Regions from separate parts of the Homo sapiens genome. Here region 1 is linked to region 2. Evidence: fine-mapped expression QTL. Tissue or cell type: whole blood. Region 2 holds a variant in brackets; the other region holds the start of a gene. All regions are shown on one strand. Distances are between the middles of the regions.

Evidence for each region. PIP is the estimated chance that this variant, and not a neighbour inherited with it, causes the effect.
Region 1: ARHGAP22 starts here. The variant in region 2 is fine-mapped to the expression of ARHGAP22 in whole blood (TOPMed, PIP above 0.99). The same link has a PIP of 0.9 or more in blood mononuclear cells and monocytes.

Annotation. Positions count from the first base shown.
Region 1 is chr10:48,600,880-48,609,060 of GRCh38, forward strand. It overlaps ARHGAP22 (Rho GTPase activating protein 22), which reads right to left and starts at 4,194. Exons shown (of 10, transcript NM_021226.4): 1 at 3,884-4,194. The coding sequence starts at 3,917. RefSeq lists enhancers at 3,615-4,345, 7,312-7,371 and a silencer at 4,202-4,361.
Region 2 is chr10:48,649,126-48,657,306 of GRCh38, forward strand. It overlaps a transcript of ARHGAP22 not described here. Among named protein-coding and RNA genes, the nearest start is that of WDFY4, 32 kb to the right of the region's middle. RefSeq lists a silencer at 6,841-7,430 and an enhancer at 7,681-7,750. The variant A/C (reference allele first, on the strand shown) is at 4,407.

The DNA of each region.
Region 1 (8,181 bases), 48 kb before region 2:
CCCTTTGGTCCTCCTTCTCCAGAGCAGGCTCTTCTGAGGCCTCTAGTCCCTGGCTAAGCTCCAGCCCACAGCCTGGATGCACCCTTCCATGAGCAGTTCTAATACGCCCCTTCTTCAGCATATCTTACTGACCATTCTGCTAGACCTCTGTCCTCTCTCTGAATCAGGCAAAGCCAGATGCTGTGTCACCTAATTAGGTGACTGTTCCTTAGCTGCTTCACTCTCAGAGCCATGAAGGTGGTGAGAGTCATAGGGAGCCATCATGGTACCTGACAAACCTGGGCAGGGGCATCACAGCATCGCCAAGGGCACATCCTGGGAGCCACAACATTCATAACTAAGCAATCCCAGGAGGCCTGCTAACCCTATGAGTGTCCCTGAAGGGCAGAATCTTCCAGGGCTCTGAAGGATCCCCCAGTCTGAGCAGGTATGAGGTCAGTTGACCTCTGGGCTGTGATTCCCTAACCACTTTTCAAGTAGTCCTGCAGCCTTGGGGCAAAACCCAGGAGTGTCCTATCCCTTTACTTCCATTCCCCACCCCACAGAGGCAGCCACTTTCAACATTTGTCATTGGTTCTTTTGGTATTACTTCTATGTTTCCAGATAGTATTTATTTATTACCACTTCTTGATTTTTTCCTTTTAAGTGTTATTTATTAACTTCTTACTATAGAAGATGAAGATTTTGTTTCTTTTACACCCTTTCCCCCCACCATCCATAAGCACCCACTCCACCCTCCCAATTAGTTATATTAAAATTTTGGTTAGATTAACAACAGAATTTCCATTATTAGCACCGTTTAATTGCTAGTCCCACTTGAGGTATGTTATATATGATAATAATTTTTCTTTCATGAATCACTTTTGTTTTCTGTGGAGTTCATAATTGCCTTGTTTTTTATTTGCTTAGTTTTCTGCTAGGTATCAATAATCCAACCTCAAACATTCTATGAGTTGTCTAGATCTAATCTCCATGTGTTTAGATGCACCTTCTTAAAAATATCATTGCATTTTATCACTGAAATAATCTACAGCTCTCATGGAGATGTACAGGGCCAGGTGCAGAGGTCTTCAGATAGTGTTGGGTTAGAGAGAAGGCAGAGGCCTTAGCATTGGACAGACAAATTTAGATCCCACATTTATTGGCTGGGCGACCATGATTCTTCTACATCTGTCAAAATGGTAACAATGATATCACATTATAGTGTAGTCATGAGAATTAAATGAGGTACAACAAAAGTGCCTGGAGCATGGGTGCACAATAAATGTTGGTTTACTTTCTTGTGGGACAATCACAAGAATAAGGCCATTGAAGGTACTTCATCATATTAATAGAGCTTTCTCTCCCCACCCCCAAAGTATTGACCAGGCTCTGAACATTCATCAAGGCTCCTGAGACATTGACACTCCTGCTACAGGAGATGGTTAAAGCTCCTATAACTTGGCCCATCAGTCTGATGATTTCCTTTAAAAGAAGGAGCCTCCTTAATAGCATCAACAATTTTATTTTGAAATATTGCAAACAAAGACAGAAATTCTAAAAGGAAAATATATACGAGTTAAAAACAGGTACATCTAGAAAAAAAACCCACTCTAATATAAAAATAAAGGGCAAGCAACAAATTGGGAAAATATTTGCAACATATGAGTCAGTGAAAGATGAGGCCAAATTTCCTAAGTACCGGGCCAGCTTGGGTAGAGACAGTGCTCCAGCCACCCAGGCAAATGCTTTCTCCTCTATCCAGCTATTCATCCACTCACTCAAAAAACACAGGTTGAGTGTCCACCAGGTACCTGGCATTGGGGGTATAATGATGTCCCCGAACAGAAATGGTTCCTGCTTTCACGAAGCTCATGGAGCAATGCAAGTGACAGATATTCACCAATCAGTCACACTCAGGAGTATACAACTGCAACCTATGGTAAATACCATAAAGAAAAGGAGAGATGGAGCAGAGGATCCAGCCTGGACTGGGGTGTGTGGGAAGACTTCCCTGGCTGGCAACACTTGAACTATACTATAACTGGAGGGTGAATAGGAATTAAGGTGTGTGTGTATGTTTGTATGCATGAACGCATGTGCACACACATACAGGCATGCATGTGCGCACATGTGAATGTGGGAGGCATTTCAGGGGAAAGAACGATGTGCAAAAGCCCTATGGTGGAAGCCTCATGGAACACTGAGGACTGGAAGAGGGCTGTATGGCTGGCCTATACGCACTAGATGCCAGTAGCACCCCTCAGTTGGAATAACCAAAAATACTCCAAACAATGCCAAATGTTCTCTAGTGGGGCAAATTGCTCCTGGTTGAGAACCATTGACTTAAAACAAACATTTATGAGAAATCCTGGATTTCAAAGACAGGCTGCCTGTAAGCCCCTTTGCTGAAGCACTGGTCTCTTACTAGCACTGTCCAATAGAAATATAAAAAATATAATATGAGTCACATATGTACTTGTAAATGTTCTAGTAGCTATAGTAAAAGAATGTAAAACAGGTAAAATTAGTTTTAATAATAGATTTTATTTAACCCAATATATCCAAAATACTGTCATTTCAGTAAAATAATTATTAATGAGATATTGTACATTCTTTTTTTGTACTAAATCATCAAAATTTGGTGTGTCTTTTTCTCAATTTGGACTAGTGACATGCCAAGTGCTTAGTAGCCACATGTGGCCAGTGGCCAGCTCATTACACAGGAGTGGGAGGGTGGAACTAAGCTCTCGCAGAGGTATCTGGCTTGTCCTATCCCTTGGGTCATCACTAGACTTGCCCCCTCCTCAGCAGAGCCATGCAAGTTCCTCCTTTGCCCATTGGGGTACACAGGGTTCAGCCCATGCGAAAGCACCCCACAGAGGGGTCCTGACGTCTGTGGAACACACTGGAAGGCTGGTCCCATCCAGGAAAATCATCCAAGTGCTTGCAGTGTGCTAATAAGATGGGTGTGTTCCCTGTGAATCCACAGGAGGCTGGAGGCCCCCCGCTGCAAACACCTGGTGAGACACAAACTGTTTCCAAGCTCCCAGGCAAATGCTCCATCCACCTCCAAAGACCCATCCTCCACTTCATTGTTTACAAAAGGAGCTCAGCCCTCCCAGATACTGGCCACCTGAAAAGACACATTCTATTTTTGTAAAAGACAGATGTTCTCATTCAAAATGACACTTTCCGTGGCTAAGAAGTTGTTGTCCATGGAGATGCTGTCTCTAGCCCCATACAGTGGCCAAGTCTTCAGGTCACTGTGCTGGGTCGCTGGCTGGACACAGGCTGGCTAGCCCAGTCCTGGACTCTCCTGACCCCCATCTCTTGCTGGTCTGAGTCTGCTCCCGCATCCACCCGTCCTGCCCCCAGACCCTGCAGCTTTCTGAGTGTTCTGGCAGGAAAGCCTGCCTGCCCCTGGCCTGCTTGAGGAAATACTGTCTGCAAAGCAGCGGGAACGAAGACCCTCGCTTGCACCCAGCTGTCTCTAGAAGCCAGGGCATGGCCTTCCCTGGTAAGGGGTGCTTCTGTGTTGGCCACAGGGCAAATCTTGGGCATTTCCTTTTTAGTAAAGAAGCAAAGTTTCCTTAAAGTTGCCACCAGGTCACCTGGAGCGACCGAGGGCCTCTGTAAAATGTGGAATGTGGGGCGAAGTGTGCACACCCACTGGGGCACTAAGCCGGCCACCGCCCTTTTGCAACTTCAGGTCGTGTCCCCACCCAGCCCAGGAGTTTCACGAGGAAGGGCACTTCCTCAGGAGGATGCTCACTATTCAGCGGCAATGGTCCCAGAACGCCCGCCCCATGTGACACATGGCGTGACGGCTGGCCAAGTGTCCGCGCACGTTTGCCAAGAGGCACATGCGGTGCCCAGAGAAACCCCAGAAAGTTGGACTTACCCCTCCTGGCCTGCCTGATCTTTGGGCTCAGCATGTTCTTGCAGCCGTCCGGCCAGCCCCGCAGGGCCGTTCATGCTGTCATCCACTTGCTTTTGCTCGTCCTCGCGCCTAGTCGCCCCTCATGTCCTGCTCGTTCGGGGCCCCGTGGCCGCTGGCGTCACCCGTCAGGCTCCCTCGGCTACCTCTCCTGGCTCCGGACGGACGGCTCGCCTTGGACTACATAAACCTCGATGCATTATTTATCCATCCCAGAATTAATTCCCATCCAAGCGGACCATTAAAGCCTCAGTAATCACTGCTGATCAATCACTGGACCAGGGCGGGGCAGTCCCTCCGCCTGGCCTGGGCGCACGCGTGGCTGTCCAAGCTGAGCGCGGGGGCGGGGCGGGGCCGAGAGGGGCGGGGCCAGCCAGAGACGCGGGGCGCGGTCCTGGCCCGGGAGAGGGTACTGGGGTTCCGGCCATCCTTTGCTGAGGCTGGAAGAAATGCGCCTTTCAGCCGCCGCCTGGGAGCCGCACTCCCTGCCAAGCCCGGGTGGGATAGCGCTTTGGTGAGAAGGTAGCCGAGACCCCCCCCCCACCCCAGAGCCCAATCCACGGGGACCCGCTTATGAGCTCACTGTTTTACGTGTTGAAAGTCAGGTGTGTCTGGGAAGGAGCAAGCAGCCCGGCAATGTAAACTCCTCAGGAGACTCCCAACAGGAAGATGCCTGTTAGGGATACTATTTATGCCTCTTTAGTAAGGTGACAGGAATAAGAGGGCAGGAAGCACTTAACTCAGGGCTCTTCATAGGAAGATCTGAATTGAATAGTGAATCTCTGCTAATTGCCATGTTTCTGTTTGATGCTGGCATAATTTTAAAGGGTGTATACTGGGGCTTTGTGAGGAGCGGAATCCAGCCTCAAGATGCTAAAAATTACCCAAGGAATGCAATCATAACAATAGCTATCATTTATTAGGCACCTACTATGTGTCAGGCACTGAGGCTGGTGCTTTACATTCAATATCTCATTTAACTCTCAAACTCCTGAAGCAGGTGCTATATATATAGCGTTTCAAATCTGGAAAATAAGGCACAGCAAGGTTGAATCACCTGCCCAAAGTCATACAGTACCGAGCAGCAGGGCGGGCACCAGAACCCAGGGCTGTGTCTACAGCTCCTGCTGCTCTGTGATGCCAGCCTCTCCACCCTATTCCCATCACTGCATGGTAACAGCTCCTGGCTTGAGCCCCCGATGAACTTGCTGAACGGTGACCTGCCTCTGTGCCCCTGATAATCACTCCGTGTATCCTCTTAGGCATCTGAGCTTGGGTCTGGCTATTTGGGCCTGAGAACTGTGTGACCCTTTCAGTAGCTGGTAAAGAGGGATTTGAACAATGCCCTCCCCTGCTCAGATGGCCATAGCCTCCATCTGACCCTCCACACTCCCTCGAGTGCCCCATGTCCACAGATCCCCAAGTGTCCTATTGGTATGTAATCAACTTTAGCAGCTGTAGAGGGAGAGAGCCCACCAGGAGATCACTGTGGCAGTCCTCCCTAGGGAACAGTGTGCCCTATGGAGAGGGGAGGACTGCAGAGTAAGAAGAAAGACTCACCAGGATGTGGTGAGCCACATGGCCAAGCTGGTGGGAGAAGGTAGAGTCCATGGACACAAAGCTGTCTTACTCAGCATCAAGTCACTTGTTCTGGTCTTCAGCTACTCCTCAGAGGGATGAATGAGTACCTTGGCATAACATTCCAGGTTCTTTCATGGTAGCATCCATGGACTCCTCTCTGACCTATCTCTTGCCGATGCTCTATACAACCATATGCACATACAGCGCCTGCTCCTGTGTGCCCCAGTGACTTTGCACATGCCTTGCTCCTGTGTGTTCCTGTTCTTGCATGTGCAGCCCCTGCTCTCCTGTGCCTCTGTGTTTTTGCACATGTAGCTGTGTCTTTGCACGTGCAGTTCCCTCTCTCTGGAATGCCCTTCCTCACATTGCCTTGTCCTCTTTGGGCAATTCCCCAATGAAATTCTCCTGATTCCACCAGCAGAATGAGCCACTAAGCACTTCCCCTGGGCCCTTATCTATGTCCCTGTACTGCCCCTCTTGTACGCCCTCCCTGAGCCCCAGGCTGACTCAGGCCAGAAGCCTCACAGGAAACTCTGGCTTCATGGGCAGATCCAAGAAACACCACTGAATGACAGAACTGACCTCCTTTTCCTTTAAGGCCAGGTACAAGCCCTGGTTGGGACAGGGGCCACCCATGAGGAGTGGGGAGAATATCAAGCTAGAAAATCTCATGTCGACACCAGGGTCACAGGGCAAGTCCTGTGGCTTGTGACAATGTCTTGAGCAATCAGGAAGCCATTTGTGAGTAATGCAGCCTGGACCACTTCATCCAAGTCAGAGGCAAGGAAATGCCCTGAGACTTAGTCTGGGTCCACTCACGCTTGTTTTGGTTAAGAAACCACCCCCAGGCGCTTTTCCTGTGCAGCTGTTTTCCCTGATGATATTAAGTCACTGTGTTCACTCGCCTGCTTTTCTGGGGATCAGAGCTGGGCTCACACCCCAGAAGTCAGGCTGGGAAAAGGGCAGGAGTTGATCTACGTTCTGCGTCTGAGAAGGCTGGGGGAATGGGGCAGGTGGGCAAAGTAGCTCTTTTCTCCTCTCCAACCTCAGACTGTGCTCTCAGTACTTCCTGAGATGAAGGGTCCACAGAGGCAGGAATTGGAGCCCCTTCATCCTGAAGTTTACCAGCCCTGATCTGCAGGGCCCTGGGAGCCTCCCACTTCCTCTGGGGTGGCCTGTGGGAGGATGGAGTGGGGACAAGGGCAGGGCAAGGGGATCTGTTGAACATGTGACCTCCTATAAGCTTTTATTTGAAGAACCAGCCCTACTCTTCTCACTTATAAGTGGGACACCCAGACCAAGGAGTGGGAGATACAGGTCTAGCTTAGCAGCGGAGACAGATGCCTCCTTCTCCACTGCCCTGTGCCTGCCTGCACGGTGCTGCCCCTTTCCAGCAGTGGTCCTAGGTCTGCCTTCACCTGGCTTCCTGCCTTGAATCATTCAGTATTTTCTAAGGGCTGTTCAGGGACAGAAGCTGAGCACTGAATGGACAGAAGTCTCCGGAAGGCAGAAGGCATCTATTGAAATGCACACCTGTTGGTGGGATGGCTGCCAATCAGCATCAACTGGCCCAGAGCCAGGATACCTTCAAAACAGTAGTTCCTAACCTTGGCTGCACATTAGGGAGCTCTGACAGTGAATTCCTGTGTCCCACCCCCAGTGGCTCTGATTTAACTAGTCTGCAGTGTTTATTGTCATTGGGAGTTGTAAAAGCTCCTCTAGGGATTCAGCCAGGGTTGAGAACCACAGCTTTAGAAGACAACTGCACATGGGGTGTTTGCTGGCTGCCATCCTAAGGGAGATTCTTCTCAGGGAGAGGCACATCTGCGAATAAATCTCCTGGTCAGAAAGTGGAAAGGGCATCTGTCCCAAGCCCCAACTTGAGACAACTCCACCCAGAGCCACAGGTGCTGTTGGATGGTCTGTGCACTGCTCAAAGGTGTCCAGTAGAGGGAGGTAAGGAGGCTGAATTTGGGCTCCATTGGCAAAGCCCTGTGTTCCAGCACAGGGAGGTGGGGAGGTGTGCAGCTAGAGGAGGGAGCTTTCCTCTAATTTGCACAAAGGCGACATATAGATAGCAAAGCCCTGCTTCCCCTGTTCCAGAAGCTGCATGGAGGACCAGAGTAAGCCCTTCTGGAGGCAGAGGAGAGAAACAATGCTACTCTGGCTTTGTGATGCCTGCCCAGGGGTCACCAGCACCTGGGTCCCCAGCCTGCCTGCTTAGTGCACTCTCTGTTCCTGCTGCCAGGAGGTCGATGCCGCAGCTCCCTTGCATGTCACTCAAGGTCTTCATGGGCAGCTCCCACCCTCATACTTTGGTTTCTCCTTCTGTCTATCCCAGTAGTGGGCCGGACCAGCTGGAGAGTACCAATGACATAACTGATTGTTAAATTTTCAGGAGTTTTGTAAGCCAGTTGTTTAGCAAGAACATCATTAGAAATTAATGTATATAAACTTATAATTAAATAAACTATTTAAGACAAAGGTAACAAGCACTAAAAACTCATAATTTCCAAATCATTTTACTACATTTTATTATTCTTCAGGTAATTGACATCTATTGTTTCTACATGGTGGATAATATATACTGGGTTGCTGCCATGCATCTCTTCTCAACTCTAATGTTCAATGACATCATGCTGGTAGTTTGAAATTGAATGTTGTGGGAGTATTTACACCAA
Region 2 (8,181 bases):
CCTCACGAGAACAAGTCCAAGTTTCTGAATATGGCATCCACCTACCATTCCTCCCTTATTACCCCATTCCAACTGCTTCAGCGCCCCTCTCTCTAAGTCCCCTATTCTCTCAGGACACAGTCATGCCCCCCTACCTGGGTTCTCACAATCCCCTTACATCTCTGCCAGCAGTGGGGGAGAGAGTCTGCTCTGGGAAAGGCCAAGGTGAGGACAACCACAGAGTCAGGGAGGCGTGGGAGAGGGTTTCGAAGGAGCCTCCCTACCCCAGGCTGCTCCCAGCCTTGGTCCCAGCGTGCAGGTCAGGGATTTGGGGACTTGAAGGAGTGGTTGGATTCAGAGATGCCTTCTCCTTCTCTTTGGACACTCTGGCTGGGTATGGGCAGAGGCCACCGTCTTTCTCTCCACTGTGATCCCGAGGCACAGTGGCTTCTTGGCATGGGGAGTGCCAGGAGGGTCAGACAGGGAGAAGCCAGCAGTCTTGGGAGACAACCAGGCAGACCAGTGGTCTGAAGTTTGGGAGCTGGTGAGAAAAGAGGCTGCAGCTAGTCCTGCTGGCAGGAGAGTTCCCTAGGAGGAGCTGAGGCCCACAGTGATGGAGCTGAGGGTGCTGCCCACTGCTGGGTGAGACTTTTAGCACAGAACTCACCAAGTGAGAGGCCAAGAGGCTCACCACCAGCTCCTGCTGGAGGGAAAGTGCTGGTAGGTTCTCGATGTGGCAAGATTGTGGACAAAGTGAAGAAATGAAGCATAGCAGTACAATTGAACGCATAAGGACCTTTCATTTGCCCTCAATCCTTGAAAATGACAGTTAAAAGCAAACTTAAGTTTCTCAATAATCTCCATTAGCTGAGAAAGACGGAGGGAGGGAGGGAGGGAGAGAGAGAGAAAGAGAGAGAGAGAGGGAGAGAGAGAGAGAGACCAGGAGGTGGCAGGTGGAGAGAAGAAAGATAAACACACAGAGGTGCTAACCGAGAGACCAAGGATGGGGAGGGGAAGCCCCCTCCCCCTGTGCTGGAGACTCTTTTTTTTTTTTTTTTTTTTTTCTGCAGCCTTTCACGAAATGGCATTGCCAGTCCATTTTTAGAGTTGTCAAAGTGTTTGAGATTAGGTAATCATTTACAAATTAATCCAGTCTCAAAAGGAATGAATGTGGATGAAACTTGGAAAAATTATGCTAAGTGAAAGAAGCCAGACACGAGGCTTCATAAAAGGATACATATTGCATGAGTCCATTTACATGACAAATCCAGAGTTGGAAAATCCATGGAGGCAGAACACAGATTGATGTTTGCATGGGGTGGAGAAGAGGGAGCAACCTCTTAATAGGTACAAGGTGATGGAAAAATTTTGGAATTAAATGGAGCTGGTGGTTGCACAACATCATGAATGTATGAATTGCCACTGACTTTTACACTTCAAAATGGTTAAATTCATGTTATATACATTTCATCTTGATAAAGACATTAATTCAATCAAATTCATTAAGTTCAGGTATGTCATGCAGTATGTCCTCTGTCCCTTTCTCAAAGGATTTGCACCTATGCTATGAATCTGGGGAAGAATTTATTTCATCATAGAAATCTGGTGGCTGGAACCTCCTACAAAAGCAAGTGACTGTTCCTTCCAAGCCAGATAATGCAATAAACCTAGCACAGGGAAAATAATACCTGGAGATATTAGGTATTAGGCTTGAACAGTTAAAGGTTAATCTCAGCTGCTCCCCCACCCCCTATTTTCTCCTGTGGAAAGTGAGATCCAGGGAAGTTGACAGTGTGAGAAGTGTCTGCAGCACGAGGCCGGCCCAGGGGTCCTGGCTTCTAGCCCACTCCGTTCTTCATGAACACAGAGCTTTACTCCTCACCCCATGAATATCTACTCAGACCACAGAAAAGGGGCTCTGTGGAGTCTGAGCCCACCCTGGGCTTGGTCCACTATATCCTGAACCTGGTAGCATATTACATTACATCACATCACCTGGGACTTTAAAAATATGCTGATATCTTGGATTCATCCAAGACCAATTAAACCTGCATCTCTGGAGGGGGAGCCTGGGAATTTTTAAAAGCACCTTGGGTGATTTTAATGTGGAGGTTGAGGTCCATGACTGCATTTCACCCACTAGCTTCTAGAATTTCCAATCTTTACCAGTCCTGGAGGGGCTCAGGCAACATCATCTCATAACTGAGCCCATCAGGTCATGCATATGACCTGACTAGCAACTGCCAACCATCACCTACACAGCCCATGCAGCCCAGCACCTGCACAACCCATCCAATCATCACCTGCATAGTCCACCCAGCCAGCACCTGCACAATCCACCCAGTCAGCACCTGCACAACAAGCCGAATCCTCACCTGCACAGCTCACCCAGTCAGCACCTGCACAATCCACCCAATCATCACCTGCATAGTCTACCCAGCCAGCACCTGCACAACCCACCCAATCAGCACCTGTACAACCCATCCAAATCATCACTTACACAGCCCACCCAACCATCACCTGCACAATCCACCCAATCCTCACCTGCACAGCCCACCCAGCGAGCACCTGCCTGTGACCCAAACAAACAGTCATCCCACTTGGTCTAACAATTATCTCCCAGGCACTTTACTGAGGGACCCAAACAGACAGTCACAGCCATCCCATTTGGTCTAATAGTTACCTCCCAGACACTTTAGTGAGGGTTACTGAGATGTCCTCACTATTTCTCTACTAGCCCCTTGGCTGGATCCTTTCCAAGCAGAGATGCAGAGTAGCCTTCAGCTGCACACAGCGTTCCCCTGTGAAGGACTTGCCTACTGCCCCAGCGGTCCTTGGACATAGGAGTCCTTACAGACTCTGAATGCAATCAGAGCCCTGAGTCATTAGAGCCCAGGACCCTGAAGTCTCTGTTTTTCAGGCAGACACAGAGCAGCTGCCATAGTTCAGGGGTGGGGTTTGTGCCATCAGCCATTTCCAGGAGCTGAAGGAGGTCAGAACCCTGACCACAGATGCCGCCTGGTGCTCTCAGCCACAAGACCAAGACAGCCTCCGGGGACCCCATCCCTCAAGCAAGAAGTCAAATGCAAAGGTAATCATTTCCCACATAGAACATAAAAAAATTCTTACTGAAATATCTGGCTGCAAACGTCCTCCTTTTGCTGGAAGCTGTCGGCAGCATAATGAAGCTGGCAGTCTGTGCAAATTTCTTCTGTATCCTTTTTATAAAGAACCAACCACATCCTCAAGCAGACAAGCTAATTCCTGTTTTCCAGTAACAGGAGATCCACATCTATAGAAAAGAAATATATTTAGAATGCCCTTTATCTGGTATTTTCTTGGATTTTAAGCAAGAAGCCTCGCTGTGAAGAATTAGTTCATTAAGCGTAAGTGCATCTAGGGATCTTGGAATGGCCTTGAGAAAGTCACGGGGTCTTGGGGTATCAGTTCCTCAAATCTGTAAAATGGGAACAATAGTGACAACCACTTCACAGAACAAAGAATTGAGAAGTGGAAAGAAGGGGCTTTGTGAGCAAAGCCCTCAGCACACATCGGATGCTATATTTGATTTTTTTTCCATGAGCTGACCTGGATTCAAGGGGAGCTGGGTTTCCAGAAAGCCTTAGAAATAAGTACAAACAACACTGCAAATTTGCAGTGACTTCCAGGATGCATTTATGGCCTTTGTCTGGTGGGCACAGCAGTCCTGTTAGTGGGGAGAGCAAGTCCCACAGAGGGACAGTCAAGGCCCAGGAGCACCCCATGTGAGACCCTCACCAGGCACACAGGCTGCTCATGGCATGGCTTCTCCATTCCATTTCTGGAAATTTAGCATCATTACAGCATAATTTACAGTTGTGGAGAATCAAAAAGAAAAATCCCAATTATGAAACAGCCAAGCGATATTTATGCAGCCATCAGCATCATTGACATAGTGGTCCTGGCAGTCCAAGGCAAAGGCAGGCTCCAAGGCGGTGGATACAATGTTATCTAAATGAGGGCAGCATTGATTCAGATGGAGCAGTGACTCCTGGGAGGGCATGCATCAGGATTTTCTTCCTAGCACCCTCCTTGTCTCCTCTGTTCTATTGAGCTTGCATCACATTTATTGATAGTGACCTGAAACACCTTTCAATTGCAGAGAGCATAAAAGCAGTTAAAAACCAATCACTGCTATAAAGATAAAACAAGCATAGCCAGTGCTCAGTGGCTCAGTGCAGGCTAGATCCTTCCTACACCTGGGCTTGTGGGTGCAGGAATTGGGGCTGTCACCACTGCAGGAAGGTGCACCCTGGGCTGCGGGACAGCGCTTAGTGGGGTGTGTTGGGGGAATGTCATCTTGGCCCATGCCTTGGGGATCTGTGGACAGTTCCTGCTGCTAATGTTCTCAGAAGGGAGCGCTGGAACAGCACAGAGAACGGGGCCAA[A/C]CTGAGCCTCTGGGGAGTGACCAGGGATAGCTGGAAGCAGAAGGAGGCAGCAGGCGAGCACTCAACTGCTTGAAGAGAGCAGCAAGGGCCAAAACCCAAGGTGCCAGCATGTCCTTGCAACAAAGCAAGCAGTAATTTGGGTTGCAAAGGCCAGAGTGCAAGGCTGATAAGAGCCCACAGGTACAGAGGCAGAGAGGAGTGAGAGGAAGCAGCCCATCCCACGACCTGGTGTACAGGGGGCTTTGGAACTAAAACTCTAGGACAAAGTCCAGGTTTTCCATTTTCGAGTGCTTGGAATTTAGACATGGGCTAGATTTGGCAAATAAAGGTGTAGGATGCCCAGTTAGTTTTGCAGTGTAACTGTGTTCTAAATATTGCGTGGGACATAATACCTGCTAAAAAGGTATGTATAGTTGACCTGAAACACTATTCAGATTTAACTGGGTATCCTGTATTTTATCTGGCAAACGTATACCTTCTGAATATCCATTTTCTCTTTGATCAAAAAAGAAAATACCACCAGGTAAGAAACTTTCAATTGCAGACAATAAGAAAGTCAGTTAAAAAGAGGGGATTTATTGGCTCCTTGAGCAGGAAAGCCCTCATAATATGGACTTCAGGCATGGCTGGATCCAGCAGCTTGACAATGTTAACCAAGTCTGGGTTTTTTTTTCCAGTTCTCCTGTTTGCTTCTGGAATGCCTGCTTCATTCTCAACAAAGTCCCCTCATTATTAAAAAATGCTGGACACCAGCTCGCTTCAGGAACTAATACTCTTTCTTTCATGACCAACACAAAGAAAGAGCCTATCTTCCAGTGTCTCTCTCAGAAGTGCTGGGAAGCTGCCCCTCCCTACTCTCCCAAACATCTCTTCTTGCCTCATGGCCTTGGTTGGTCCACTCACCCATCCCTGAACCACCCAAACCAATGCAATGTGCTGATTGGCTAAAGCCAACCTGGTCTCATCCCAGGAATAGGGTGGCTTGGCTTCGTAAAAGCCACCTCAGCTGGTATGGAAAAGAGGTGGTTGCTAGAGTGGATGCCAGGCACTGCAACCAAGGTTGGGGAGAAGGGGTTCAAAATACAGTGCCCACAGTGAGGTTGCCCTAAGGATAAGATACATGAGACTGCCCCGCTGGTGTGGTGTGTGTGTTTAAGTGTGTGCTGTATGAGAGGAGAGAGAGGGAGAGAGAGACAGAGGGAGAGGGGGAATGTTAGTTCCTCTCCTTGGACATGCTGATTACTTTCTTTCTTTCTTTCTTTCTTTCTTTCTTTCTTTCTTTCTTTCTTTCTTTCTTCCTTCCTTCCTTCCTCTCTCTTTTCTTTCTCTTTCTTTCCTTCTTTCTTTCTTTCTCTTTCTTTTCTCTCCTCCCTTCCTCCCTTTCTCCCTTTCTCTCTGTTTCTCTCTCTCTTTCTTTCTCTCTTTCTCCTTCCTTCCTTCCTTCCATCCTTCCTCCCTTCCTCTCTCTCTTTCTTTCTCTTTCTTTCTTTCTTTCTTTCATTCTTTCTTTCTTTCTTTCTTTCTCCTTCCTTCCCTCCTTCTCTTCTCTTCTCTTCTCTTCTCTTCTCTTCTCTTCTCTTCTCTTTCCTCTTGGCCAGCTCGGTGACTCAATCTCCTTCCTGTCTCAGGCCCCTCCCACGAACTGGCCCGTGTGTGCCCGGGGAAGGTCCCTTCTCCTCACTGACCTCCACCCACACCATGGAGAGTGGATGTGTGTGTGTGTGTGGGGGGGGGGGGGGGCGGGGGACGCTGCATCAGGAGACCTCTGGTTAGGGAATTTTTATCAGGAACCACCTCTGTGACCTTTACCAACCTCAGCCTATAGTGGGGACAAGGTCCTACAGCGTGGGCCTCTCCTTTGGAAGGCTTTGGGACAGAGTTCTGCCCACCAGCTGGAGGACAGTGACCTCAGGGGGAGAAGGGACAGGAGACTGCTCTCCAGTCCCTCACCCCAGCCCTCGCCTTTCCCTCACCCACCTTTCTTTGCAGCAAGTTCAAAGGCAGGTCATACACCAGCTAAGCGGGCACAGCTGGGCACAGTTCCCGGGGCCTGCCGGGCAGCGCTGGGAAGGGCGGCAGAGAGCGCGGACTGGACGCTCGTCTTGGAATGACTCAGCCAGGAGCAGCCGCCAGCAGCATGGGCCACGCAGCAAACGGGCGCGCCGTGGGAGCTGGAGAGGCCAGGTCTTCTGGAACCAGGCCAGTGCACCCTGCCCGGGCGTCACCCCACCACGGACATTCACAATGACAGTCAGCACTTCTCAGCACACTGTGGATCACACGCATTAGCCTGGCACCTGGCAGCGCCCCGAGGTGGGCATCACGGTGGGATTGGGAGGCACTCCAGTCACAGGGTTCACCAGGGCCGAGGTGGCGACGAAAACCCGTCCCTCGGGCGTGGCAGTGGCCTGGCCACGTGCGCCCCAGGGCTTGCACCCGCATCTCCCGCCGGTGGTAAGCGGGGCCTCCAGCAGAGCGGGCGGGGCTGCTCACCTGGAACCAGGGCCAGCCGTCTCCTCCCCTGCCTCGGCCGCCCGGGGCCTGCCTGGGGCTCCTTCCTCGCCGCCCGGCGGCAGCTCTTGAGCTCCCGGCCCGCTCCTTTAGCCCCGCAGGCTCCCTGGCCGTGACCCTGTCCCCGGCCTCCGTGTGATGAGCAGGCGAGCAGGGCCGGGGGGATGCAGCCTGGGCCCCGCATCCTCAGGCAGGACGGAGCTCCCGGCTGCTCGGCGCCTCTGGGGGGGGGGGGGCGGGGGGGGGGGATGCGGCGCAGCGGGCGGTCCCAGCGAGTCAGAAGGGTGCAGCAGCCGGGTCGGGGATGGCCGGGCGAGGCTGACCCCTGCCGGGCAGCGCGGGTGGCGCCACGGGCGGAGGCGACTTCCTGGGCCCTGGTGCACGGCGCCCCCTGGCGGGCCTCGGGGAGGCGGCCTCCTGCGTGCCCGGACCGCTCGCTGCGCCTTCCCGCCTGGCTTCCGGTTACCCAACCTCATCTCGCCCGAGCCTCATCTGTAGCTCACCGTCCTGTGCGCCCTGTGCTGTTGGCAGGGCGTGTGGGATTTAGAGGGTTTTCTATACTGAGTCTTCCTCGGAGCAGGTGAATTCTGCATAGCTGGCCCAGTTCTGTGTCTTAAGTATGGGGAGAGAGTGGGGGCTGGAGAAATCACTAGCAGGGGAGGAGCCCTGAGGTTGCCGAGGGGGATCGGAGCTACTTCCCAAGGCGCCTACACCGCCCGTAGACTGGGAAACTACGGTCACAAAGGGTCAGCGCATTCCCCAAGGTCCCAGAGCCACACGCAGCATGGCTGGCATTTGAAAGTCAAAGCAGAGGAAGCAGGCAGGTGGCTCTTGTTGAACTGGCTTCCAGAGTCTGTGTTGGGCAGAGAGATCCTTCCCCGAGAGTGGAGTGGCCTCGTGCTCACCTGGGTTCAGCGTCAAGGTTCACCTGGAATCACCTGCACTCTTGTCCTTGACCAAGGCAGGGTGGTTAGCCATGGGCTGATAGCCTTGGAGAGCCTGATTCAGCCTTTGGGTAGAGCTGGGTCAGTCCAGCCTCAGGGCCATCACTCACCCGAAGCATTGTGGTAACCTGCCTGCCCCTGGAGACCCCGGGTGTGGGGCAGGGTGACCGTGGTGGAGAGTGGGAGCTGGCAGAGGTAAGGAGGCACACGTCTGCCACAGCACCAGAGCTCAGGGCGCCTGAGAAGCAAGGTCATAGCGTCCTGTTCTTGGACCCCGTCAGTCTCCACAGCTATAGGGGGCTCCATTGAAAAGAGTGTGC